4 linked regions of the Homo sapiens genome follow. The protein of the gene in region 1 interacts with the protein of each later gene in a pairwise test. Each region holds a gene or a part of one and is shown on either strand. Other genes may lie near its edges. The genes, in order: FAM241B, CGRRF1, BIK and BLCAP.

Region 1 (7,460 bases):
ACATACCTGTAGTCCCAGCTACTTGGGAAGCTAAGGCAGGAGGTCAAGGCTGCAGAGAGCTGTGATTACGCCACTGCACTCCAGCCTTGATGACAGAGCCAGAACCTGTCACAAAAAAAAAAAAAAGAAAAGAAAAGTAAAGAAAAAGAAAGATTTATGGAACATTCCATCCAAAACCAGCAGAATGGATATTCTTTTCAACCTTCTATGAAACATTCATCAAGATAGACCATATCCTGGGCCCTAGAACAAACCTCAACAAACTTAAAAGAATTGAACTCATACAGAGTGTGTTCTCTGACCACAATGTAATTACTAGAACCAATAATGGAAAGATAACAGGAAATCTCCAACACTTGTAGACTAAATGATCCTTTAACATAATCCATGGACCAAAGGGGAAGTAGCAAAAGAAATTTAAAAATACATATAACTAAATGAAAATGAAAATACACGTCAAAATGTGTGGGGCACAGCTAAAAGTGCTAACAGGGAAATTTATAGCACTAAATGTTTACATTGAAACATCTCAAATCAATAATCTAAACTCCCGACTCAAGAACTTAGAAACAGAAGAACAAAATAAACCCAAAGCAAACAGAAGGAAGGAAATAATAAAGATAAGAGCAGAAATCAATGAAATTGAAAACAGAAAAATAGAAACAGAAGACTCAGTGAAGCAGCGCTGGTTCTTTGAAAAGATCAGTCAATAAGATTGATAAACCTCTAGCAAAAGTGAAAGACACAAGATAGAAGACACAAGTACCAATATCCGGAATGACACAGGGATATCAGTGCCTGCCCTGTAGCCATGTGACTCGTTCTTCACAATGGAATGTGAGGGAAGTAATATGTGCTACACCTACAATACTTTTCTTTAAAAGAAATCACTAGCCCTCATTTCTTCTGTCTCACCTTTCCATGAGCTGCATATGGCGAAGAAGTTGGTGAGGCAGTTTTGACGACGCAAATAAGGGTGGCATCCTAGGGTGTAGGGGAGCAATAAGCTAGGAAGAGTGGATGTCCTTGGCTGGCCTTGTGAAGCAGAGCTGCCCATCTACTTGATTGAGTCACTGTATATTTTTTTTGTTCCAGCAGCATAGCCTGTACTCAAGCTAATATATTACACCTAGGTGGGTTTATGTCTTAGGGGACTTACATACTTACATATAACCAAGATATTGTGGGGCCACTCCAGTCTTCTGACTATGTAAGGTGTTTTCTGAGGCCTCCATCAATCCTCTGGTCCCCCATCATCTGTCCATGGATGAGGGCCATCACTGAACCACCCTTCATACCTGTCTACCTGACCCTTTCAAGTCCAGCAATTTTCCCACTACTACTACTACTACTACTACTACTACTACTACTACTACTACTTACTACTCCCTTGTCATTGCTGGAGCACAAGAATCCTTCCACCACACCTCAGACACAATGGACCCAAGGATTTCCACAAGGCCATATAAGGCCCTACCTGTCATACTCACTATCTGGCCATTCCCTTTCCCAAGCCTCATGCCCACCTTTGAGATCCAGCACACAACACCTATGCTCCCATCATTTCCTCCTTTCCCAGTGTTTTCTCTGAAGAGGCCCCTGTCATACTGTCTTCCATGGCCACAGGCCTAAGGAGGCACCAACAGTGGGCACTGGCAAGCTAGTGCTGCCTTTCTCCCACACCATTCTCTGAGTAATAAACACAGGCATAGTGTCTGCCAGAGTAGGGGAAAGAGACAGGGGGAAATAGCAGGAGAAAGAGATAGATAGATTAATATATTTAAAATGACATCACCATTATCATCATGCCATTCTCTTTTGAGGCAGAAACAGTTGTTCCCACCTGCAGAGTCAGAGAACAGGCCAGGACACCTGACTTAAAAATTATGACCTCTGCTATGAACAGAAAACCAAAAGCACATTTTTATTGACCACATGTTGGGGTTAAGGCATGACCCAATGCCCAATCTTGTGCTGATGGCACTGGGGAAGGTGGGGGCACAATTGTAAAGAGGCTGCAGAGCTGAGATGAACTCAGGGGAGTCTGTTTGGTGGATGCAAAAGCCTGGAATGCAGAGCCCGGGGACCTGCCTTCATTTGAACGCTGGCTCTGTCACTGACCTTGGGCTCATCATCTACCTTGTCTCTGAGCCTCAATTTCACCTTGGTAAAAGAGGAATAATAACACCTACTCTTTCTATTTCATAATCCAAAAAAGAATGAAGTGGTCTCTGGGAAAACACTTTGGAAGTAAGGACTCTGCACATATAGGGGTTATTATTATTATTACATGAAACAATCACGTTTGTGGATGAAGGGATTTAGATTGGGTGGAGCTGGCCTTCCAGCAGATATTCAGGCCCAAGCAAAGCAGGCCTTTGGGTGATCTACTTCAGGGAAAGCAAAGAGGCCAGGTGGGCAGAGCTGAGGGAAGGAGTTGCTGACAGTGTGCTGGGGCTAGAGTTGGAGGGTTGTCAAAGCCTTGCCAATGAGTTGGGGCTTGTTGGAGCAGACAGTAGGGACCATTGCAGGTTCTTGAGCAGGAGAGACACCTGAAGAAGGTGGAGAGATAGCAAAAGTGGTATGTTGCCTCCTTAGGCTATTTTAGTTGGTAATAATAGGCTATTTCTAAGTCCAGTCAAGCACTATCACTTCCCACCCCAAAGCTGTTCTTGACTTTTCTGTAGGGACTTGCTTCTTCCTCTCGACTCTTACGGTTCTCTCCAGCTGGAGTGTATCTCTCTGGCAGCAGTTATACCAGCTCAAATCTTCCTGAAAACATCCATGATTTTCTGCCTGTATCCCCTGGTTTCCCAGCCCACAGAGGTTACCTCCCTCTTGGGGCTCCTGAGTTCCGTGACCTACTTATGGGGTTCTGTTCATGGAAGGCAGTGTTTCTCGGCCCTAGCTGCTCATTAGAAGACTGGTTTTTAAAATGTCTCCATGCACAGATTGTAACCCAGATCAACGACATTGTGATCTCTGGGGTGGAACCTAGGTATTGGGATGGTTTCTAAACATTCCAGGTAATTCCAATGTGCACATTGCGATTTGGGATCACAGGCCACCTCTGACAATCGGGCATCCTGCCTTGTGATTACTGCTTTCATGCGTGCACTTGGCATACCTGGAACACACTGGGGTGTGGGGAGAAAGCACTAGGATTTTGGTTTATATTTACTTTACATCCTATGCTTTTAAAATGTGCATGCTTTACAATCGACTTGATAGTAGAAGAGGTAATGATCATAACAGTCAGCAGCCGTTGAGCATGTACTGCAGCCAGGCTCTCATCCAAGCACTTGACACGAAAGTGCCAGAAAGCAGTCACACCAACATTCAAACACAGGATGGCTCCAGCAGCCACCTTTTATCCATCATGCCAATCTGTTCTCACAGTACACATGTGTAATTTAGAAACAAACAAAAATAGTAACATATAAATAAGATACAGATACCAGAGCGACCCGTGAAACATTTTTTGCTGATAAGGTTTCATGATCAAATAATCAGACTATGGTGGCCGACTATGAGTCCTCCAGGCCAGGTCTAAATCTCTCTCTTAGTTTTGTTCCTTCTGCCCAGCAGCTAGCAGAATCTGGGTTCTAATAAATGCTCAACAAATATCTGCCACTCCCACAAACATTTATTAAATGATAATCATAGCTAACGTTTATCAACATTGCCAATGTGCCAGAGACATCATACTTAATCTTCACAGAAGTCCTGTAAGGCTATGATTACACCTGCTTTGTGACACTGAGCAGCTAAGTAACTTGCTAGAGTCCAGAACCTGAACCCAGACTGTGGGACTGCACAGCTCATTCTCCCCCACTGGTGAGCAGGTCCACAGGGAGCAGCTTATGAAGGTGGTGGGGGAGAAGTGGATTTTAAAACATCAGGAAGGAGGCAGAGGTGGATCATTCACTCCCTGCAGGTGGTTCCTTCTGCCAAGAGTGACCTTCTCTATCCTTACCTACCCTCCTGCCCCAGCTCAAACGCATCTTCTCCTGGAAGCCTACAGAGGGTTCTGCCCCGTTCCTGCCTCATCTTCCCCACTGAACTTGGAACTCCTAGAGGGCAGGGTTGGGTCCTACTCAAGGGGCATCCACGGAGCTGGGTCAGCAAACATAACACTGGTCATCTGAGCCTGCGCCCGCCCTTCCTCCCAGGCCAGGGCGCCCCCACCCCCTGGGTTTTTCCTCCGTGGACGCCGCTTCCTTTTCCTTCTTTTCTCCCTCCTCCTTCTTCTCCTTCTTTTCCACGTGTCTTCTCCTCCCATCCTCTTTTCTCTCCATCCCCACCTCCCACTCCTTCCCACGCCCCATCTCCCCGACCCCCAGCACCCCGCGCCGCCCCCAACCCTGGGCCGGGCAGGTGCAATTCCTCAGGCGGCCTACAGAGGGCGATGTGCGCCGCCACTGGGCCGCGCCCCTCCGGCGCGCGCTTCCTGTGAGGTCAGGTGGGAGGAAACCGCCTGGAGCCGCCGGGAGTGGACGCCGCCGAGGCCCGGAGTCGCGCCTGCAGGTGAGTCGCCGCGCCGGGGAGGGAGCGCATCCCTCGCTGCAGCCCGGGCCGGGACTTGGAGCCGGTGTCGGGCTCCAGAGGCTGGGGCTGGCGGCCGGGGCAGCGTCCCTCCCGCCCCCGGCCCGGAATGTCAGGTGCGCCGCGGGCCGGGCGCGCGGGTGGCCCACCGGGCGGGGGCGCGATGACAAAGCACAAAGGGACTGCGCGCGACCACCATCCGCTCGGCCTGCGCCAGGGCCAGCGGGCTTCAGGAGGGGGACGCGCCTGTCCCGGGCTCCAGGCTACGGGCAAGACCACAGGGCTCCTGACCTTTTTCGGCATACATGTCACCAGTGCTATCTGGAATGTAGGTGGACACTGAGGCTCATCTCCTGAGAATGAATGGCCTTTACCCAGACTCAAGGGGAGGCGTGGAGGGGCCCCGCAGTCCAGGGGTCCGCGGAGTGGAGCCTTTCGAGGGCCACCGCAGCAACCCCCTCCCATATTTTGGGAAGGCTGGGCCCTGCGCCCGTTAGCCAAGGTTGGACTGGTGTTCCCTGCGAAGTGAGGGACAGGTGAGGGGCGTGCCCTCTGCAGCAAAGGTGTGCTCTTCCGAGGCGCATGATGGCTAGGATGGTCTGCCGCTACCAGGCAGTGGTTGTAAAGTAACCCCGAAGTGACCCTCATCTCCCTGGGTGTTCCTGGGGAAGGCCCAGGTGGTGACATTGACTCCCTGGGGGAGCAACACACTCGACCCATTTTTTAGTGGAAGGGAATTGGAACCCCACTGGGGATGCTGGTGCCCTGGACTCCCAGTTTAGTACCCAGGGAGGGCCCTAGAACCAGAGCTTCTGGCCTCGTGTTCCTTCTCTGCTGTCCGTAGGTGTGATCCCGGGCAGGCCACTTAAGTCTCCCTGTGCCTCCGCCTGTGCAATGGCCGCGCTAGTACCCTCCTCGGGGGAGTGTTGTGAGGCTTGAGTGAGGTGAGCCTTGCAGGATGGGCCTTCCACGGGGCGTGGGCCACAGCAGAGGCTCTAGTCCCAGTTGTGCTGTTGGCAGTGTAGTGATTGGCAGTAAAACTTCCTTTGCCAAGGATCTTTTTGATAGTTTTCCTGGTGGACTCAATGTCTGAAATCTTTTTGCCTGGCAAACAACTTGCCTTTATTTCTCCCCTTTTTGTTAATCAGACACAGCATCTACTCAGCGTGGGTCACCTCTGTGAACATCACTGACTGCAAGCCTCCCTCAATTTCTGGTAAATTTTTTCCTTCAAGCTTTTTGAGGTCAGGGGGAAAATCCTCCACAGATCTTCACGAGTCTGGTCCCAGATCACTAACAGCTAAAGGTTTTGTGGTGGGGAGAACTTCTGTGCCACTTGGCTTCCATTAGCCTGCCCACCCTGACCACACAATGCAGGTGCAGCCCATCAGGGACCCACAGCGCCTGGGAGGATGGTGCGGATCTTGGCCAATGGGGAAATCGTGCAGGATGACGACCCCCGAGTGAGGACCACTACCCAGCCACCAAGAGGTAGCATTCCTCGACAGGTAGGTACTCATTTCCTGTGGAGTGGGACAGATGGCCTCCTGTGTACTGGCTACTCCTAGCTTCCAGAAGTCTCTCTTGCTGGTCACTAACCTTTTCTAGCCTGAAGCCCTCTTTGCAGAGAGCTGGGGAAGATGCAGTGGCTTATTGTCTACCTCCCCAGATCTCCTTTCTCCAGGCGCCTCCCCAGACTTCACAGCCAAGAGCTCTCTCTCCTTTAACTTGGTTAGCAAACCTCACTGGAGCTAGCGTCTTTCTTTTAAGAGTGGGTTGGATGACAGAAGCTGGAGAGGAAGTGGAGGAGATGAGCCCTGGGCACAGAATAATCATTTTAAAGGGGTGGCTGGGCGCGGTGGCTCACACCTGTAATCCCAGCACTTTGGGAGGCTGAGGTGGGCGGATCAGGAGGCCAGGAGTTTGAGACCAGCCTGACCAACATGATGAAACCCCATCTCTACTAAAAATACAAAATTAGCCAGGTGTGGTGGTGCATGCCTGTAATCCCAGCTACTCAGGAGGCTGAGGCAGGAGAATCGCTTGAACCTGGGAGGCGGAGGTTGCAGTGAGCTGAGATCGCGCCATTGCACTCCAGCCTGGGTGACAGAGCGAGACTCCGTCTCAAAAAAAAAAAAAAAAAAAAAAAGAAAGGAGTGATGATGAGTATTAAAAATGCTGGCCCTAGAGCCATGCCCTGTAGTCCAACCTGCCTCAACCACTTCCTCTCTCCTCTGTCCTGGGCCTGATGTGAGGAATATAGACTGGCATGTTCTGTGCTCTGAGAGCTTGTGACTTGGTTGTTGGGATTCTTATGGGTGGCATGGGGGATTGCTGAGAAAGGAGGGTGTGACCCTGGGTGGCTGTAGGAAGGGCAGGATGCAGCCTAGAGAGGTTGATTCCTGGCTGGTGCGTCAACCCAATGATTCATTCATCTCTCTCTGTCTTCACATTCCAGAGCTTCTTCAACAGGGGCCATGGTGCTCCCCCAGGGGGTCCTGGCCCCCGCCAGCAGCAGGCAGGTGCCAGGCTGGGTGCTGCTCAGTCCCCCTTCAATGACCTCAACCGGCAGCTGGTGAACATGGGCTTTCCGCAGTGGCATCTTGGCAACCATGCTGTGGAGCCGGTGACCTCCATCCTGCTCCTCTTCCTGCTCATGATGCTTGGTGTTCGTGGCCTCCTCCTGGTTGGCCTTGTCTACCTGGTGTCCCACCTGAGTCAGCGGTGACCTCTGAGGGCTGATAGGGGTGGGTTTGTTGAGAGGGACTTGCTGGGCCTTGGTGTGAGAGCAGGCATATTTGGAGGGGATCTGGTGGTGCCTTGAAGGTATGATCAGAGAGGGGACCACAGGTGTGTGTTTCCCCTTTGTGTTAAGCGTGAGGCAGAGGGAGACGTTAGTCCAGCATTTCCAAAGT
Region 2 (7,024 bases), on another chromosome or scaffold:
TCCTCAAGAAGGTTTGTGGCTTTTCCGCCCCATCATTTCTCCCTTTTTAGTGGCTTAGCATATTTTCTACAGTCCTTATTTTTTTCACTTTTTTGCAAGGCTGTCTCTTACACTCCGCTTTATTTGCTTGTTATAGATAGTCTGGGTAAGGACAGTTTGAGAGATACCACACCCATGTGCTTCACTTATTTTGATTCTGAATTTTCTTACAGCTACGTCCCAATTCTGTTAATGCTATTGATCTAAAGTGATGTCATGTGTGTACTGAGTTTTAGAAGGCAAAAAAATACATAAAAATTGAAACTCTTTGCAAAAAAAAAAGTGGAAAAGGTAAAGGGAGAATAGTTTTGATGGGGGTACTGACACTGTCTTCAGATAGTGGAAATCATTACATTCTCCCCTCAGTTTATGTAATGGACAAGTTTGTAAAAGATTATAGAGATATACCTAATGCTAAATGACGAGTTAATGGGTGCAGGACACCAACATGGCACATGTATACATATGTAGCAAACCTGCACATTGTGCACATGTACCCTAAAACTTAAAGTATAATAATAATAACATTAAAAAAAGAGATTATGGAGAGTATAATTTTATAGATTCTGTAGTTTTTTTAAATTAATTTTAGAGACATTTTAAGATCTGATTAATCTCCAGTTGTCAAAGGTCTCTGACACTCTTCCCATTTTAGTTAAGTATACAAAGTCTATAAACGAGTCTCTTAAGTAGCTCTGAATCTTTGGGGCTCTGGCTTTTTTTTTCTTTTTACAAAGCAAATAAACAGGGTAGTTTTATATGTTCTGTAAGCTGTAAGTTGAGTTTTAAAAGGCTTATCCTTCCATTGTTCTTTTTTTTTTTTTCTTTTTTTGAAACAGGGTCTCACTCTGTCATCCAGGTGGAAATGTAGTGGTGTGATCATGGCTGACTGCAGCCGTGATCCTCCTACCTCAGCCTTCCAAGAAGTTAGGACCACGGGTGCGTGCCACCATGCCCAGCTAATTTTTGTGTGTTTTGTAGAGACATGGTTTTGCCACGTTGGCCCAGGCTGGTCTCAAACTCCTGGCTCAAGTGATCTGCACATCTTGGCCTCCCAAAGTGCTGGAATTACAGGCATGAAACACCACACCCAGCCTGTTCTTCTTTAATGTAAACAAACACATATATGGGTATCCATTCTTGTGAGATAAACAGTAGCATATATATTTAATTTTCTCTACCTTGCTTTTTTTTCATTTACTAATATATTCTGAAGATCATTTCATAATAGTGTGTGCAGATACTCTGATATACCTCAATTCTTTTTTTTTTTTTTTTTTTTTTAAGAGACAGAGTCTCACTGTGTCAGCCAGGTTGTAGTGCAGTGGCACGATCTCGGCTCACTGTAACCTCCGCCTTCCTATTCACTTTTAATAGCTTCTTAGTACTTTATTGTAGAGTACTATATTTATTCATTTAATCCGCATTGATGAACATTTGGGTTTATTCCAGCATTTTGCTATGATAACTAGTGCTATAATGAGTAGCCTTATACATATATCTTTTCACATTTTTGCTAGTAATACAATAATAAATAATCATTTTGTGTTTCTTGTTTTTTCTTTTTCAATGTTTTAAAATATGCATTTTCTATTTTTTCCTTTCGTATCTACCTCCAGCTTTTTTCTTCTGCCTCATGTTATGTGGTTCTACAGTGACAAAGGGAAAAATATGTGTGATTTTGTATGTGTGTGTATATGTGTGTATATGTATTTGTGTATGTATAAATAAAATGTTTTCCTTCAGCTATTTAATATCAAATGGAATTTTTCATTCTTGAGTTAATACCTGATGATTGGAATCATAAAAATTTGAAATCAAAGCCTGCTCCAATTAACCTATGCAAAGTTCCTACCAATTAAAATTTTTCCTTAAGTATGATTAGAAATGGCCATGTATCAATGCTACTCAGACTCTCAGACTGTGTGTACATACTACTAAATACTGAGAGTAAAATTGGAAAAATCAGTTTTTGGTATCCTGTGGAGCATCTGCTTGTATTTGTGTATCTTCTTCTAACATATACTCTTGATCACATTTTAAAAAATAGGTAATATATCAATCAGAATTCTTATTAGCAAGCAACAGAAACAACTTCAATAAAAGGATATTGGGTAGCTTACAGAATTGCTGGCAGGTTTGGAGAGCCAAAATCAGATGCCAAGGCTGTTGAGCCAGGAACAATGACCAAAACCAGGCCCTTTTTATCTAGTCAGTGTATCAGTGCCAAGGAGTACTACACGTTACAGTTTGCGCTGCTACAGTTTGCACCCCCAGCAGTATGAAAGGCTGGATGTTGCTACCCTTGAATGTGATATTGCTACAAATACCACTAGGAGGGGGAAATCACATAGGTGACACAAAGTAAGTCCTATACAAGTGTTAAATAAAACTGTATAATTTCACATCTACTTACAATTTGTATATCCATTTAATCAGGTCTACTCAAATTGTTATATCTTCTTAAGTTGAAAGTGAACAACTGAATTAAGATACCACTATTAAACTCTTTATGTTTTGGAATCCCCACTCTTTTCCTCAGGATATTTTGCATATTACATGGGACATTAAGTCTGTGACAAGCCTGTATGTTAATGTTGTCAATGTATACATTAATGTTAGTAAAGCTCAGTTTCTTTTTAATATTTTTCTTACAACAGCGATCATGTTGTGGAGCCTATAGGTTGTACATATCCCCTTTAGAGGACAGCTGTATTCTGCTGCACTGTTTCTTGTCGTTAGGATCATATACACTATGAGAGTGGTAGGTTATCAATAGTGAACTGTATTTTAGTTTTAAAAATCTAGATGGGAAATGTCTTAGAGTCGCCAAAAAAGAAAATTAACAGTTTCTAAGCTTTAATAGATAAATAGTAAGAAATAGTTTTTTGATAGCTCTCAAAAAATGTGTAGACATTGAGCTTTTATATCTCTTGTTACAGAGGCCAGTTCCTTCGTTTATAGGAGGCATACCCTTTAACAAGTTCTTTTAACTGCCATCATCCTGGCCAGCATCCAAAAGGAAGCTTTTGTTACTCACCCTGTATGATTGTATTAGAAGTTACATTAAATCACTTTCATTCTTTCTCCTTTGTTTTTTACAGCTGGCATAACCTTGACAACAGATTGCCTTGAAGATAGCCTCCTTACATGCTACTGGGGGTGCAGTGTTCAAAAATTATATGAAGCTCTGCAGAAGCATGTTTATTGCTTCAGAATAAGCACTCCCCAAGCATTAGAAGATGCTCTGTATAGTGAATATCTCTATCAGGAACAGTATTTGTATCCTTTCGTCTGATATACCCATTAGCACTGAAAATTAGACTTCTTATGGATAAAGTGTTGCTAACTTATTGATCATTCTTGGTATACTAGAAGCATGTTTATTGCTTCAGAATAAGCACTCCTCAAGCATTAGAAGATGCTCTGTGGAGTGAATATCTCTATCAGGAACAGTATTTGTATCCTTTCATCTGATATACCCATTAGCACTGAAAATTAGACTTCTTATGGATAAAGTGTTGCTAACTTATTGATCATTTTTGGTATACTAGAAGCATGTTTATTGCTTCAGAATAAGCACTCCCCAAGCATTAGAAGATGCTCTGTGGAGTGAATATCTCTATCAGGAACAGTATTTGTATCCTTTCATCTGATATACCCATTAGCACTGAAAATTAGACTTCTTACGGATAAAGTGTTGCTAACTTATTGATCATTTTTGGTATACTAGAAGCATGTTTATTGCTTCAGAATAAGCACTCCTCAAGCATTAGAAGATGCTCTGTGGAGTGAATGTCTCTATCAGGAACAGTATTTGTATCCTTTTATCTGATATACCCATTAGCACTGAAAATTAGACTTCTTATGGATAAAGTGTTGCTAACTTATTGATCATTTTTGGTGTATTTTTGTTCTTATGGTTATAGTGGCAATTTACCTTTACATTTTCAAAAAGTATTAAAAAGGATAGCAAAGAAGAAATATATTGCCAGTTACCAAGAGATACTAAAATTGAAGACTTTGGTACAGTACCCAGATCTCGCTATCCATTGGTAGCGCTATTGACCTTAGCTGATGAGGATGACCGGGAAATTTATGATATTGTAAGTAATTGAAAATTTTGAAAGCATTACCTTTAAGTGATTTGAATGGTGGTTCTTCATTATTTGATAAATAGAAAAAGTTTTATTTTAATTTCTGAGGATGTGCATTTGGCCTACAACAACTATATACCTATTTGGTTTTTATATGTGAAACAGTACCTTCAGATTATGACTCATTTCTTGCCTTATGGGTCACAGTAATATGACTTTATTTGGAAAATAAAAGATATATAATGGTTGAATTAAGTTAGTTTCATCATTAACACCTATTTGGTTGTATACACCTATTTAGTTTTTATATGTGTAACAGTACCTTCAGAGTATGACTCATTTTTTGCCTTATGGATCACAGTAATATGACTTTATTTGGGAAATAAAAGATATATAATGGTTGAATTAAGTTAATTTCATCATTCTGTATTCTGTCATATTTGCTGTATAGAAACAGTCTGTTGGGAAGCATGTTTATTCTGAACATGTTTAGCAGTGAATAAATAAGCACAATAATGATCGAAAGTGCTCAATTTTAAGATAGTATCCACTCTTTTTTTGCCTGCTTGCAGTCACCTTGTTTCCATCAAAGTCCCTGCTGCACCTATATCTTATATGTCTGGTCCCTGTATTTTCAGTAATTATAATAATCTCCTTTCCTCATTATGTGCTAATTATTTTTTCAGTCTGATAGTTGATTCCTATTAGGAAGTTAAAAGTATCTTAGAGATCTAAGAGGACTGAAACTTTGACAATCATCTGAGTATAATAGAAACTTAGACATGAAATAAACTTTTGATGAAATTGTATCATGGTAAAAATGTCCTTACACACAATTGACTACTTTTCTGAAGTATTTAATATAGATTATTCATTAATAAACATATGGTAACATTGTTTTGTGATATTCGTAATATGCAAAGTACGTTCACAAACATGAACTTATTTTTTTCTTCTAACAACCTGGTTTCTTAGGACAGGGCAAATATTCTCCTTTCACAGACTGAAACAGAGTCAAGAAAAATCCCAGTCATTCAGGCAGTAAGAGATGGAACAAGAGCTTGACTCTGAGCTTTTTGTGTGTGTTTGTTTGTTTTTGTTTTTTGAGTTTATTTTTTTTAGCAGGAATATCTTCCTGCAACAAGTGTACATTGAGCTTTGGAAGGTAAAGACTCTTTGGGAAATCTAGACCCTTCTTACTCATTTGCAGTTAAGCACCTAGGTTTTTGGTTTTTAATATTTTCAAACTGAAGTTCCATTGAGCTGAGGTCAGCTTATTTTTTCCAAGTCATGGGGAGCAGAGGGGAAGGAAATGGGGATATGTAGGTCACTAGAGACAAAGTTACAGATACATAAAATGAACAGGTCTAGAGATCTAATGTACAGCATAAAGACTATAGTTAATGTGGTATTGCTTTTGGGATTTTTGGTGCTCTTGCCACATGCAAAAAAAGTGGAAGTAACTGTGTAAGATGATGCGTAATTTGCATTATAATAGTAACCATTTCACTAGGTATATATATATCAAAACATCCTGTTGTACACCTTAAATATATACAATAAAAATACAAAATACAAAAGTCATACCAGCAGTAGTGTATTTCCAGAACCTAGTACAGTGCCTAGGATATAATAGGGGTTCAATAAAGATTTGATAAGTAAAAAAAAAAAAAAAAAGTCATACTAGACAATGTTAATGAGCCTCATAGAGCTTGACAGCGAAACACCTTAGCTGTACATCCCATGCACCTTAGCGTGCATGAGAGGCCTTCTGGCTTCCTCCCTCCTTTCTCTCAGTTTCAGTTAGAGATAAATAAAACCTGTTAAATTGGTGTCTCCTATTTCTAGCTTCTTTGTTCTTGACCCTGTGTACTTGGGCAAGGAAGCCCTTCTGCCCCCACTGTGTGCCCCATCTCTGCTGAGTTTCTTGGGTTCTGTTCTCCTTTTTCCTTTGGTTCAGCACAAAAGGATCAGATCGCAGTCATTTTCCCTCCCAGCTTCCCCATTGCATTCCTTTTCCCTTCACTGATAGTGCTCTCTAGGTGCTCAGGGTCTTTTTTTTTTTCTAACTTTCTTCCCCTGTCCAAACAGGGAGTGATTGTGTATCTGTGTGGTAAAATATATATATTTTATATATAAAGTTTACCATTTTAACCATTTTTGTGTGTGTGTTTTCAGTTCAGTGGCCTTTTAGGCCAGAGAAGAGTTTGCTCTCAGGTCCCTGATCACACTGGATGAAGACTGTGTGGCCCAGCTGTAGTTGTGGGAGGCTTGTTCCCATAGGGAAGCCTGAGTGTCTCCCAAGGGTTAACAGCCATCTTCTCTTGTGCTTTGTGTATGTCTCTGTGTCTGGGTCCTTTTGAATGTCTTTTATTCTCATCTGTGGGCTCCCTCCTTTTTTCCTGTTAATCCTTGCTTCTCGTCTTATTTCTTAGATTGGGGGTAATATTGGCACTCAAATATATTTATTAGTGTATTTTGTATTAATGTTCTCTGTTTATAATTTTAAAAGCAAATGGACCATTTCCTATTTCTTTTTCATATGTGTTTTTTCAGTATTGTATGTGCGTGTCAGGGACTATATTTTTTTAAAAAATTTATTAATAAAATCATTTTTATTTTAACAGCAAAGAATTATATTTAGGTAGTACAGTTAGGAACCACTTTGTTGTTTTAGATTAAAAAAAGGAAAGCAGGAATTGTTACTACAAAATTTTGACTTTAAAATTTTTTCATTTTTAGTTAATTACATTGGCTTTTTTTCAGTATTATTCAAATAATACATTTGTGGCAGGAAAAAAAATTAGAAAGTGTAGATAAGCCAAAAGGAGAGAAGTATAATAATCTGTATTCTATCATCCAAAAATAATCACTGTGAATATTTGTCT
Region 3 (7,024 bases), on another chromosome or scaffold:
TGGGCCAGGCGCGGGGCCCTGAGGCTCACGTCCATCTCGTCCCCGATGCAGGCCAGCCGCAGGGCCAATGCGTCACTGCAGGGAGCACACACAGGAGTCGGGTGTGGCTGTGCCGTGGAGGCCACATGCACCTGGACCCACCCAGCCAACGGATTGTGTGCAGCTGGGAGTGGCCCAGAGGATAAGAGATGGTGTCAGATTTGGGGCAGGCAGTGAGTGGGCCTCCCTGTATCCCTCCTCCGGCTCCCACTTGGATTCAGAGATACCCATGAGGTCCCATCCGTGGGTGGCCCCAGAGGTGCAAGCTATTTCAAAAAGAATCCTGGGGCAGGCCCACCTGTGGGCTTTGGTGGAAATGGTGGACAAGGGGAACAGGCAGGTCTGGGGGTGCTGAGCCCCCGGATGGCTGAGGCTGACCAAGGGGAATGGACAGGTCTGGTGGTGCTGAGTCCCCCGGATGGCTGAGCCCCCTTGAGCCCCCTTCCCACAGGGGTTGCAGCTTACCTTCCTTTGTGGGAGGTGAGGGGGCTCTAAGACCTGTGTCCTGGTCCCAATCCTGAAACCAGCCCTGCTGGCACCACCCCTCTCCAAATGGGGGGACTAAGAAGCCCCTAGTAGGCCCCCCACTAAACCACATCCTTGATCCTACACCCCACCCGCATTCACTCCCACACAAAGACTAAGACACTCCCCACCCTCCCAGCTTGCTGGTCTGGGCCTCTACCAGGGACCTGTGTGCATTCCATCCCAGTGACTACACCGGGGGAACTCCCAGGGAAGTGGGACTCCTAGGGGCCCTGAGCTGAGGCCGGCCCTGGGCCCTGGCCCCACCCACCTGACCTGCCAATGCCCTGGGCCTACACTCCCTACTTGGAGGGGATGCGGGTGGGAGGGGTACAGGTGTGGGCTGGCAATCAGGGTTGGGGGCTGTGGTCCTACCTTCTGTTACCCTGGGAAACCTCAGGAAAATACTGCCCCAGGCTTCATGTCCTCCAACCTTGTCCATTAATGGACAGGTGCCTCCAGTTCTAAAATCCTTAATGACTAAAAATCCTGAGGCTGAAAAAAAAAATCCTGAGCAGAAAAGAATCCTGTGGAACATGGAGCTGGTCCCTGGCCTGTGGGAGGTGCCACATCAGAGACAGGATTCCCCAGCAGAAAGCAACAGCCCAGGTCAGGCCTGACCATTCTCTTCCAGGCTCAGGGTAGAAACTACTGAGGTCAGCTGCTCCTGGGCCTTCACGTTCCTCATCTGTACCAGGGGAAGAATGAAAGTGCCAGTCCTGGCCGGGTGTGGTGGCTCACGCCTGTAATCCCAGCACTTTTTGGGAGGCCGAGGCAGGCAGATCACGAGGTCAGGAGATCGAGACCATCCTGGCTAACATGATGAAACCCTGTCTCTACTGAAAATACAAAAAATTAGCCAGGTGTGGTGGCAGGCGCCTGTAGTCCCAGCTACTCAGGAGGCTGAGGCAGGAGAATGGCGTAAACCAGGGAGGTGGAGCTTGTGGTGAGCAGAGATCATGCCACTGTACTCCAGCCTGGGCGACACAGCGAGACTCCGTCTCAAAAAAAAAAAAAAAGCCGGGCATGCTGGTGCACGCCTGCACTCCCAGCTACTCAGGAGGCTGAGGCAGGAAAATCACTTGAACCCGGGAGGTGGAGGTTGCAGTGAGCCAAGATCATGCCACTGCACTCCAGCCTGGGTGACAGAGACTCTGTCTCAAAAAAAAAAAAAAAAAGTGCAGGTCCTTCCTGCCGCTGGGATGGCCGGGTGTGCCTGGACATCTGGGTATGCTGCCGTGTGCTGGACATAGCTGGGAGCAGTTGGCAGAGTGCAAGGGTCAGGTCCTACTGGACCTTGGCCCCTGAAACCCCAGGCAAATCCTGCTGCCTCCAGGGTCCTTGTCAGTCCAAGGAAGATCCCTTCTTCATGCCTCAGTGATTCTTTGAAGCCGGGACCAGGAACTGCATGGCCTCCTCAGGCTCTTCCATAGGTTCTGGTTTTCTTTCTTTTTTCTTTCTTTCTTTTCTCTTTCTCTTTTTTTGTGAAACGGAGTCTTACTCTGTTACCCAGGCTGGAGTGCAGTGGTGCAATCTCAGGGCTCACTGCAACCTCCACGTCCCGGGTTCAAGTGATTTTCCTGCCTCAGCCTCCTGAGTAGCTGGGACTACCAGCGCCCATCCCCCCACCCCCGGCCCCATACCTGGGTAACATTTGTATTTTTAGTAGAGGTTGGGTTTCACCATGTTGGCCAGGCTAGTCTCGAACTCCCAACCTCAGGTGATCCGCCCACCTCAGCCTCCCAAAGTGCTGGGATTACAGGCATGAGCCACGGCGCCCGGCCCGGTTCTGGTTTTCTAAAATGAGAGCCGTCAGAGGCAGTTGAACCAGAGCGACTCCATCTTGATTAGGGGCTGGGTAACAAAAGGCTGAGACCTACTGGGTTGCATTCCCAGGAGGCTAGGAATTCTAAGTCACAGGATGAGATAGGACATCAGCATAAGATACAGGTTACAAAGACCCTGCTGATAAAACAGGATTCGGCAAAGACGCCAGCCAAAGCCCACCAAAGCCAAGATGGGCACAAAAGTGACCTCCAGTCATCCTCACTATTCATTGTGCACCAACTATATTAGCATGTTGGAGTCACTCACCAGTGCCACGACAGTTTACAAATGCCACGGCAACGTCAGGAAGTTGCCCTATATTGTCTAAAAGGAGGAGGAATTCTCGGTTCCGGGAACTGCCCACCCCTTACCCGGAAACTCATGAATAATCCACCCCTTGTTTAGCATGTAATCAGGAAATAACTATAAGTATATTCAGTTGAGCAGCCCATGCCGCTGCTCTGCCTATAGAGTAGGTTTTCTTTTTTTGAGATGGAGTCTCGCTCTGTTGCCCAGGCTGGAGTGCATTTTTGCAACCTTGGGTCACTGCAACCTCTGCCTCCTGGGTTCAAGAGATTCTCCTGCCTCAGCCTCCCGACTAGCTGGGACTACAGACATGTGCCACCAGGCCCAGCTACTTTTTGTATTTTTAGTAGAGACAGGGTTTTGCCATGTTGGCCAGGCTGGTCTCGAGCTCCTGACCTCAAGTGATCCGCCTGCCTCAGCCTCCCTAAGTGCTGGGATTACAGGCGCGAGCCACTGCGTGTGGCCCAAATTCTTTCTTGCTTGAGATCTAAGAACCCTCTCTTGGGATCTGGATCGGGTCCCCTTTCTGGCAACAGAGTCACCTCCTTCAAGAGGCCCTGATGTCCTCAGCAGGTCGCTAAGGGCCTGTCTAGCTCCCTGAGGCCCAAACACTGTGCCATTTTGACAGCCAGGGGCCCCAGGTCCATCTTGAGACTGTGAACATGCTGGCTGTCCAGGGGTCTGTGAGCTGGTATCAGGGGAGGGTGGGGCAGCAAAGTGAAGCCGCTCCCAGGGCAGAAGCCTCCATGCCCACATCCGGGAAATCTTCCTCTCGGAGGCCCTGCCTGGGAGGCATCTGCAGGCGCTCCCCCGCTCATAGAATGTCTGCTCATCCAGCCCACCCCTGAAGTCACTATCAGGCAGGGGGTAGGGCAGGCCATGGGGACCTACCTGCCCTCCATGCATTCCAAAGAATCGAAGTCCTCCATAGGGTCCAGGTCCTCTTCAGAGTCAGTCATGCCAAGAACCTCCATGGTCGGGGGTTCCAGGAGCTGCTCATACAGGAGGGTCTCCATCAAGATGTCTCTGGAGAGGGGTCTTACTTCAGACATTTCTCCTCTGGGGCAAAAAGACAGCATATGACTGGACCCCTAAGAACTGAGCAGTCTGGGGGCTCTCTCACAGGATGACCCCCAGATTGTATAGCCCTACTCACCAGCTCTTTTGATCCGCTAAAGCCGTCAATATCCCCCAACCCCAGCTCCCACAGGCATGAATCCTGCTACATGCTGGCTGTGTGCCTCTGGGCAAGTCGCCTAGCATCTCTGTTCTTGGAAGGGAGGAACTTGAAGATGATTCATAAGGGCCCTTTCTTTCTTTCTTTGTTTTTGGATACTGAGTCTTGCTGGAGGCTGGAGGGCAGTGGCACAATCTTGGCTCACTGCAACCTCTGCCTCCTGGGTTCAAGCAATTCTCCTGCCTCAGCCTCCCGAGTAGCTGGGACTACAGGCATGAGCTATGCCTGGCTAATTATTTTGTATTTTTAGTAAAGACGGGGGTTTCATCATGTTGGCCAGGCTGGTCTTGAACTCCTGACCTCAAAGTGATCCACCCCACCTCGGCCTCCCAAAGTGCTGGGACGACAGACATGAGCCACCACGCCCAGCCTTTTTCTTCTTTGTGAAACAAAATCAGAGTATAAATAAATATTAGAAGTTCTCCTCGGACACCAGCCCTCAAGAACCTGTCAAAGCAGAAAACCCAGGCACCTGCTGTCAGCACAGGGGACAGAGGCCAGGCTGCAGGGCGATTCCTCTGTACCACTTAACAGAAGGCTACACCTGTTCTTTGGTGTCTGCTGTTTCTCTTGAGAAGAAAGGCAGAGAGGCAGCATGAGAAAAACGTATCACAATCCCCATTCCCAGAGAGACCATCGCTAATTCTTCTAGTGTTTTTCCTAAACACTTGTGCGCATCACACATCCTTCTTCACAAATGGGATCACCCCATACAGTGTCTTACAGCCTTCTTTACTGGCAGATGCTATTTACCTCTCCGATATCCATTCCACCTGGCTCCTTGCTGATAGAACCCCAATTTTCTTCGGGGTGGCCCTGCATCCTCATTCATCTAAGCCAACCATGGCCCTCCTCTCCCTCAGCTTCCCAGCATCCCTTGCAGCTGGTGACAACCATGTAACCCAGTTCTGGTCAATGAGGGCTCAGAGGCTGGAGGCAGGGGTTGGATGCCAGGGAGTAGACACAGCCAGGGCAGCTCCTTCAAAGATGGAGCTGCAGTGGCTGACCAAGAAGAGCAGAGTGGGGAGGCAGAGAGCGGCCAGGCCTGAGGGTGTCACTGAGCTGTCTCCTCCAACTGTGTGTAAGAAAAATGAACCCAAATGTGTCCTCATCACCATTCACTGAGTTTCCTCTTCTTTGCCACCAAAGGCCTTCCTAACTATGATCATTGCGAATCCCATGCCAGTACATGTTTCATCATGATGGCAGAGAAGGGTTCTGCGACCTGATTCACCATCATGTACCCCACATTTACCCTACAGGGTACCAAACAGCCTTAGATGTAGATGACGATAATGACGATGACTGTGGCACGGAAATCTAATGGCCTAGTTCAAAGCCCGGCTCTGGCAGTTAGCAGCAGTGTGTCAATTTCTTCATCTGTGAAATGGGTTTCATGGTCTGAGAGCCCCGCCCTGGGCTATTGGGAAGACGAAATAAGGAACTCCTTCATGTACTTTGAACAGGGCCTGGCACGCTGGGAGGAAGTTGGCACTAACCATTACCTTTATGCTTCAACTCATTATTTTCTTACCATAATGCCCTGGGTGTTCTTAATTTTTAATTCCTCATGCCTGCTGACAGGACACTCCGCCCTCCCACCATCTCACTGAGCTGTTTGTTCACACAGGACACTGAGGCTTAGAGAGGTTCATGACTAAGCCAAGAAGGGACAGAGCTCCAAGTCTCCCTGACCCCCAGGAGAGAGAAAACTGACGGCAGGCAGGACCCACAGCGCCGCCCTCCCACAGGCCTAGGCACAAGTGTGTGCTCACGACTTGCTTTCAGCATTCAAGGGAGATGGATGGGCCGGGTGCGGTGGCTCACGCCTGTAATCCCAGCACTTTGGGAGGCTGAGACAGGCGGATCACCTGAGGTCAGGAGTTTGAGACCAGCCTGGCCAACATGGTAAAACCCCGCCTCTAATAAAAATACAAAATTAGCCAGGCGTGGTGACATACGCCTGTAATCCCAGCTTGAACCTGGGAGGCAGAGCTAGATTCTGACTCAAAAAGAAAAAATAAGGTTTCACAGATGAGATGTTTTACATTGTATAGACGGCCAGCAGTGTGCGTGTTAAGCTGGCATTAGAAGAACTGTGTCCAGAACTTCCAGCTGCCTTGGGTGTCTATGCAAATGGCATTTCCCTAGGAAAGCAGCTCCAGCCCTTGTTTGCTTTTCCCCCCTTTCCCTTCCCCTCGAAAAGGCAGTCTCCTGCTTTGTGCTCCTGGAGACCCCAGTACCTCCACGCCCCGCAAAGCCAGAGCAACAGTGGAACCTCACCTCACTGTGAGCTGAGCTGTGAGCTGCACCGAGCCTCGCCTTGACCCACTGTGCCCACAGCCCCCTTACCCAGCAGGCATTCCGAGAATCCTTAGGCGCCAGATAGGAAGAAGGCCCCAGCCACCAGAGTGGGCTGCGCTGCCGAGGGTCTGCAGCAGAGTGCAGGTCAGGCCTACCTGAGGAGTCAGTCACCCACGCTCTGCCTGCAAGACCCTTTCAAGCTCCCCACCCTGCCAACCTCCCCATCTGAGTAGACCCAGGACCACATCTCACCTTAGGTTGATACCCTAGCCCAACCCTTCCTGCACCAGCCTCAGTTTCCCCATCTATTGTGTTTTTGTTGGTGGTAGTGTTTTTTTGTTTGTTTGTTTGTTTGTTTTTGAGACAGTCTCACTCTATTGCCCAGGCTGGAGTGCAGTGGTGTGATCTCAGCTCAGGTGCAACCTCCGCCTCCCAGGTTCAAGTGATTCTCCTGCCTCAGACTCCCAGGTAGCTGGGATTACAGGCACATGCCACCACACCCGGCTAATTTTTGTATTTTTAGTAGAGTCGGGGTTTTACCATGTTGGCCAGGCTGGTCTCAACTCCTGATCTCAAGTGATCCACCCGCCTCAGCCTCCCAAAGTACTGGGATTACAGCACTTTGGATTAATTTATTAAATACCCATTACCCTCTACCACAAAGAAGGGACCTAATCTGAACCTTTAACCATCTGGCCTCTGGGCCCAGGCCCTCAGATTGACTTGATATGAATGGCAAAGATCCCATCACCAACTGGGCCTAGGCTGGCCTTAGGGCCCAGATCT
Region 4 (7,151 bases), on another chromosome or scaffold:
TGCATTAGAAGCCCTGCCTCAGCTTCCCCAGTTTTCTGGGCCCCAGGGAGAAAGGGCTGGCCACTGAGGCCTTGTACATGCTAACACTCAGCCTGAAGTTACTGGAAGGTGGTATCCCGCAAAACAGACCTGATCCTTGTTTAGCAGCATGTCACATTCCATGGGATGGCAGGACCCCTTCCTTTCTTCCATTTTTCTTGTTTCTGTTTTTGAGATGGAATCTCGCTCTGTCGCCCAGGCTGGAGTGCAGTGGTGCCATCTTGGCTCACTGCAACCTCCACCTCCCAGGTTCAAGTGATTCTCCTGCCTCAGCCTCCCGGGTAGCTGGGATTACAGGCGCGTGCCACCACACCCAGCTAATTTTTATATTTTTAGTAGAGACAGGGTTTCACCATGTTGGCCAGGCTGGTCTCAAATTCCCGATCTCATGATCCACCTGCCTTGGCCTCCCAAAGTGTTGGGATTACAGGCGTGAGCCACCACACCCAGCCCCTTTCTTCTATTTTTCTTGAGGTATAACATACGTAAAGTATATAAAGCCCCCAGTCTTTTTTCTTTCTTTCTTTCTTTTTCCCCCGAAACAGGGTCTCATTCTGTCGCCCAGACTGGAGAGCAGTGGCACGATCTTGGCTCACTGCAGCCTCTGCCTCCCGAAGTCCCCTAGTCTTATGGTGAATTTTTACTTGATGAATTTTCACTTACATAATCACCAGCCAGAAGAAGATATAATCCTTCCAGCATCCCAGAAAAGCTCCTCTTGCTCCTTTCCCATCCCTACTCCTGACCTGACCCAGGTAACTACCATTTTGATTTCTAACCCTATAGATTAGTTGAGCTTTATATGAATGGATTCATATGGTATGTACTGTTTTGTATCTGGCTTCTTTTAGTCCACATACTATATGTGAGATTAACTGGTGCTATTACATGTAACAGTAGTTTGTTCTTTTATATGTAAAACACAGTATTCCATTGCATGAACATGCCACAATTTATCCATTCTCCAGTGATGGACATTGAACTATTTCCAATTTGAGCTATGAATAAGTCTGCTATGAACATTCTTGCACAAGTCTCCATGTAAACATAGGCACTCATTTCTCTCGGGTACATACCTAGGAGTGGAAATTCTAGATCACAGCATAGGTGTATGTTTAGATTTTGTAGATGCTGGTTTTCCAAAGTGGCTGTACCAATTTGCTCTGCCGTCAGCACTGCAAGAATTTGTTGCTCCACAGCCTCTCAACATTCAGCTCTCTTTTTCTTTTTTTGTTAGTTTTTATTTCATAATCATAAACTCTGCAATCCACCTGGGCATGGAAGGGAACAAGGAAAACATGAAACCCAAAGGGAACTGCAGCGAGAGCACAAAGATTCTAGGATACTGGGAGCAAATGGGGTGGAAGGGTGCTCTCCTGAGCTACAGAAGGAATGGTCTGGTGGTGAAGATAAAACACAAGTCAAACTTATTGGAGTTGTCTACAGTCAGCAATGGTGATCTTCTTGCTGGTCTTGCCATTCCTGGACCCAAAGCGCTCCATGGCCTCCACGATCTTCATGCCTTCTTTCTTCTTTCACCTTGCCAAAGACTACATGCTTGCCATCCAACCACTCAGTCTTGGCAGTGCAGATGACAAACTGGGAACCGTTTGTGTTGGGTCCAGCATTTACCACGGACAAGATGCCAGGACCTGTATGCTTTAGGATGAAGTTCTCATCATCAGATTTCTCCCCACAGATGGACTTGCCACCAGTGCCATTATGGCATGTGAAGTCACCACCCTGACATATAAATCCTGGAATAATTCTGTGAAAGCAGGAAACCTTTTAACCAAATCCTTTCTCTCCAGTGCTCACAGCACGAAAGTTTTCTGCTGTCTTTGGAATCTTGTCTGCAAACAGCTCGAAGGAGTAGGGGCCTAAGGGCGCGTCATCGACAGTGATGTCAAAGAACAAGGTGGGGCTGACCATGGCTGATAGTATGGGGATCCCAGCGGCATCTGCAAAGCCAGCTCTCTCTTTTTCTAAACAAGAGCTTCCACTACAAGACTCCTCTTGTCATTCAGTGTTGGATACTGGGTGTGGCTGCCATGGATGCATTGATCCTTTAGCCTGTAAGCAGCAGGATGGTGGGAGGCCACATTCAGGCCTGTTTTGAGTCTCAGCTGGAGGAGAAATGGACATCTCCTTGCTTTGGATGTGACCTCAGGAACTGGATAGCCATCTTGTGGCCATGAGCATAAACCAGCACAAGGACAGAAGATAAAATGAACCTCAGTCCTTGATGACACTGCCTAGCCACTGAGTGGCAGGCTACTTATTTTTTTAAGCCACTTGATGTAGTTGTGTGTTTAACTTGCAACATAAAAGATACAGTCCACCAACCTTCTTTATTCCCAAACCCCAACGGCTCCATTTCTGTTCTCAACAGCATCAGCCCCACTGAGCACTCCCTCCTTCCTGAAACCTCCTCTCTAGGACCCACACTCACTTGGTCCTCTTTCTACCCCACTGGCCACTGCTTCTTAGTCTCCTTTCCCGGATCCTCCTCTTCTTTTCTCTCCACCTTCTTTCACTTGCGTTCTCACCCAGCACCATGACCTTTGTATTGATGGCCCCCAAATATGTATCTCCTGCCCCAGCCTCCGTTCGCAGCTTCTGTGTCACATAAACCTGCCTACTCACCCTCTCTGCCTGCATGTTGCCCCGACATTTCAAACTTAACTTCTCAAAGCCGAACTTGATCTTCCCCCTCAGTCCGTTCCTCTTTCAGGCTTTATTGTCTTGGTCAAGGAATCTTTTACCCTTTCATTTACTCAAGGCTAAAACCTAGCGAGGAGTTATTGCCAATGCCTCCACATCCACCCAAGTCCAATCTTCCACCCTTCCCTTCACCTCCCCAAGCTACCACCCTGTCTGAGTCAGCATTGGCTTTTGTCTGGAAAGCTGCAACCACCTCCTAACTGGTCTGCCTACACCCACTCCTGAGTGCTTTCCAAGCCATGCGGCCTGGGTGGCCTTTCAGAAATCCTAATTTGCTATCCTCTTCCTGATGAAAATGGCTTCCCTGACTCTCAAGAGAAAAGCCAAATTCAGTATGTAGCTGACCTGTTTTCTTCTGTGCTCACCTCACCCCAACTCTGCCGCTTCCCAGCTCCAGATCTGGGACAAATGTTCTTTCTGCCTAGAACATTTCCCCTCTCACTCTTACCCTAATCGTCCTTTGTTTCTCAACCTAAATGCCATCTTCCCAAGGAGGTTCCACCCTTTCCCTACATTAGTACTCCATTAATTTCTCCTAACACTCTCTACTTCTTCTCACAGCACTTCCCATGATGTGTAATTATGTATTGATTAAAGTCACTAATATACAGTGATTATATGACTGTCTCCCCGCCTACCCGCCATTAGACTGGCAGTGCCTTGAGGTCAGGGACAGACCCAGGTTACCGACTCTACCTGCCCTTAGCACTGCGCTTGGGTACAGTAAGCGCCCAAGGAATATGCTTAATTAGCTAATAAATGACTACACGGACTCATTCAAGCCTCATAAAAGCCCTAAGGTGGGCATTTCAACAGAAGCCGGGTCGGGGTGGGCGAGGGGCTCGCTGGCCCAAGGTACGGGGCAAGTGGGGGAGCCGAGGCCTGACCCAAGGCAGTCCCAAGTTCTGAGCCCGGACCTTTCAGCTCCTGAGCCTTGGCTGCATGATGAAACGCTAGGGAGGGGGTGGACTTTGAGCCACGAGAAGGTTTTCCCGGAGTCCACGGACCATCCACGCGGGCAAGAACGAAGCGGGTTCACCAACATGAACACAACCCGGCCCGCCCAGCGCTCACGGAGTAAGGATCACAATCTGCTGCATATGCATGAGGGGACCCGGCCGCGCTTCGGGGCTGTCCACACTGCGCCTGATAAAAATTATTCGGGCTTGAAGATCTCGGGGCTCCCAGAGTTTTGTAAAAGTGCATACAAAGTCCTCAAAGGTGGTCTGTGGCTGATATTTACGGGAAATGGGGCGAGGATGAGCCCCCACTTCGGACCTTGTGATCAGGCGTTTGCGGTAGACAGCCCGATCCCAGGATGGGTCCTCGGCCGGCTCGACTAGAAGACTAAGGGGGCGTCTCCCCGGCTTCCTGCGGCGTCGGTGGCGAGCTGAGGTGGAGGCAGGCTGCGGCAGACGGCGACAGTGGCGGCGGCGCCATGGCAGGGCTTGCAGGTACCGTGGCGTCAACCTGCTTGGGGCGGGATGAGAGGCCCTCCATGCGGCCGCGCCGCCATATTGTCCCTTCTGGGTCACCTTAGGCGTCGCCGGGTCCCCGTCACTGGGGTTTTCCTTCCGCATACCCCGGGAAGGCAGGGCGCCCCTGTCCGGCTTCAGGTGATTGCCGTGATTGGACCTAGCCTGGGCCTTGGGGGGTCCCTTCCCAGCCCGGAGGTGGGTCATAGTACTCCTGGGTGCTGGCTCTGGCCTTGTCCAAGGTCAGCGCCCTTGCAGGATGAGACAGGCAGAGCCGGGGGCACGGGGCTGGGAGCGCGACCACCATCTCTGCAGCCCCGGGTTCCACGGCAGGGTGCCCAGCTTGTGAGAGGCCTGTCATTCTGTCCCCATCAGTTTAGTTGCGTTGCTTTAGTTGCTTTTTTGGGGGGGAGGTGGGGGGACGTGGGGGTGAGGGGAGAGAGGGTCTCCTGAGGCTCCGCTTCGGTGTCTGGGGTGATAGGCTGACGCTCTGCTAAGAGTCGCGGGCGCTTCTTACTCCCTCCAACTTTACATCAAGGGTGGACATCCCTTCCCTTTCCTTCTATAGACGTGGGGAGTGGCCCTCAAGGGCAGCTGAAGGAACGGAATGCCTGGCGCACTAATGGCCTGGAAAGGAAGCATGGGGGATGGGGGACAGTTGTTTTTTCCTTCCCCTTTCCAAATCTCCTTTAGTTTCCTTCCAGGCCTCCGTGTCCCATTTCATCGCCGAATGTTGGGAGACTGGGGTCTGTCCTCGGAAAGAAACAGCCTTTCTGTTTATAGGTTTGGATCGTCTATCCCTTTCAGGGAACTGGTGTGTTGGGGACGGCTTCTCTGCCCTGCCTGACATGGTCCAGTCATCCCGTCAGCCTTCTGGACGGCAACACCAAAGCTGGGACCAAAAAAAAGTTCCAGCTTAAGTGCTAATGCCAAGTGTTAGATCTTGTTTGCTTGTTTGTTTTAAATCAGAGACTAATTAATGTCAAGCAAATCTGTTAAAAGATTTGATCACGGGAAGCCTGGTCGGTTTCCAGTGACCAGGTCAATTCCATATCTGAAATTAGTCTTGTTAGAGTTGCTGCCAAAAACAGTTTAACCTTTAATCTGTAATATGTTGTTTCAAAGAGGAATCTGGGTTAGACTGTCTTTTTTTGTTGTTGTTCTCCTATCTTTGAAACACATGCATTCCATTTCAAGCCTGTCCCTGTGCGATATACCAAGAACCACGCGTTGCCTGCCTCTCTGACTTCCTGCTCTGGAAATGCTCAGGAATCTGGATCCTGCTGGGGCATGCATGGGCCCTGTGGGAGGGCAAGTCGGGGAGGGGAGGATAAACAGGATCACTCCCAGGGAAGATGGTGACAACGTGTCTCTGGGGCATATAGAGGAAGTCAGAGGTTACCGGGGGGAAAAGAGATTGTTGTTTGACTAGTGTTTTGTGTATGTGCATGAGTGCACACGTTTAAATCTCTGAGGGGGGGTGGGGGCGGTGGGGGGGGGAAGTTAACTGCAAATTCAGAATCTCCCTTTGGGGTGTTGGCTCCTGAGGAGATACACATTTCAAAATAGATATCTAGTAAATGGCTCACAGCAAACCTGCTCCCCGATCCAACAGTAATCCGTTGCCCAAGCTCAAGGAACTTGCCCCTGCCCTTCCCTGACAGCAGACATCCCTTCCTTCAGTGACAATTCAAATATTCCACAGATAAAGGTAACAGTGTCACATAGCACCCTGCACCCCTAAAAGTCATGGTACCTAAACACCTCTGGACTTAACTTCAGTTCGTTAGGCTAAGAAACTAACATCCTGGAGTATTAGTCTCAAGGGTCTCTCACCTGTTGCTGGAGTCCCACAGAGCTATTCCCAATTCCTTCCCAACCGATCTGCTCTGTCCTTGGCCTTGTGGGGGCAAAGTCTTCTGGGAGCAATGATGGTTTAGGCAAAGGGGACGTTCAGCACTGTGACTAAGGGCTGTGCAGTAAAACACTAGTCATTTTCAATTCTTCGCATTGCTCTCTATCAGAATAAAATGTTTAATGGTATAGTTTGTGGAAAAAATTTTATAAACAAGGTGTGTTTGGACCATCTAGGCATTGCATGGCATTGCACTGGATGGAAAGTGAATGCACTGTCTTCTCTGGTGGGTTAAGTTTGCTGCCAGAACATGAAGTTTTGTGGGTGGAGGATGCAAATGGGGAGTGGACATTGCACATTGAAGCCCACACGTGCAGGTGCAGGCCACCAGGGCAGCCCTTGCCTGGAAATCTGTCATCTCACCTTGCCACACTCACAGCCCTGCTGATGGACGGATGGAGGAAAAGGGCTTTGCCAAGATGATATGGAAAGCTCTGGGGCTACCAGGAGCCTCTTGTCCTCTAAGTGGGGGCACAAGAGGTGCTGTGTCCAGAGCAGCCAGCTCTTACCATGCTGCTTTGGCCTACCTCCCTGAAATCTGCTACCTTGTCACTTGGGCTGAGGTTAGAGCATCAAGAAGGGCAGTGGGGCTATGGGCATACCCCTCAAAAGCTCCGAAGGGAGGGTCAGCCTTCATGGAGAACACATGTTGGTATGTTCATGATTCTGTGGGTTTAGTGTGGAAAACCACAGAAACTCCCAGTTTTGAGGCCTGCCAAGATATGGGGTTCAGAAGGGAGGAGGTGTGGGCATTGCCTGCTGATGAGTCACACTGGGGCGAGAGGAGACCTGCCTCACCTTCAGGCTATGGTAGCAGCTATAGCCACCCAGCCTAAGAAAGATGAAGTCTCAGATTGCACATCCTCTTCAAGTCCTGATGAGTCCTGATTGCCACTGCTATGGCAGTTTCTAGCGTGTTAGGGTTCACTGGCATCTCAAAGGCCCTCTTCGAGAGGGAAACTGGAGATGAAGGGTACAAGGTGACATGTCCAGGTTCC

The links.
Region 2: the proteins of FAM241B (region 1) and CGRRF1 interact in binary tests that used the Homo sapiens proteins (3 or more experiments, as listed by UniProt).
Region 3: the proteins of FAM241B (region 1) and BIK interact in binary tests that used the Homo sapiens proteins (3 or more experiments, as listed by UniProt).
Region 4: the proteins of FAM241B (region 1) and BLCAP interact in binary tests that used the Homo sapiens proteins (3 or more experiments, as listed by UniProt).

The regions. Positions count from the first base shown.
Region 1 is NC_000010.11:69,625,787-69,633,246, forward strand, and holds the start of FAM241B (protein FAM241B), read left to right. Parts: upstream 1-4,460; 5' UTR 4,461-4,527; exon of another isoform or gene 4,528-4,850; coding exon of another isoform or gene 4,851-4,873; intron 4,874-4,917; exon of another isoform or gene 4,918-5,489; intron 5,490-5,693; coding exon of another isoform or gene 5,694-5,761; intron 5,762-5,922; coding exon of another isoform or gene 5,923-5,957; coding exon 5,958-6,053; intron 6,054-7,003; coding exon 7,004-7,273; 3' UTR 7,274-7,460. UniProt on the Homo sapiens protein: May play a role in lysosome homeostasis.
Region 2 is NC_000014.9:54,526,906-54,533,929, forward strand, and holds part of CGRRF1 (cell growth regulator with RING finger domain protein 1), read left to right. Parts: intron 1-3,143; coding exon 3,144-3,321; intron 3,322-3,997; coding exon 3,998-4,145; intron 4,146-7,024. UniProt on the Homo sapiens protein: Able to inhibit growth in several cell lines.
Region 3 is NC_000022.11:43,120,748-43,127,771, reverse strand, and holds part of BIK (bcl-2-interacting killer), read right to left. Parts: intron 3,757-7,024; 5' UTR 3,750-3,756; coding exon 3,589-3,749; intron 76-3,588; coding exon 1-75.
Region 4 is NC_000020.11:37,524,859-37,532,009, reverse strand, and holds the start of BLCAP (apoptosis inducing factor BLCAP), read left to right. Parts: upstream 1-4,133; 5' UTR 4,134-4,217; intron 4,218-4,277; exon of another isoform or gene 4,278-4,436; intron 4,437-7,151. UniProt on the Homo sapiens protein: Acts as a tumor suppressor; induces growth arrest at G(1)/S checkpoint and apoptosis via RB1-dependent and p53/TP53- and NF-kappa-B-independent mechanisms. Modulates expression of genes involved in the regulation of proliferation, cell cycle and apoptosis.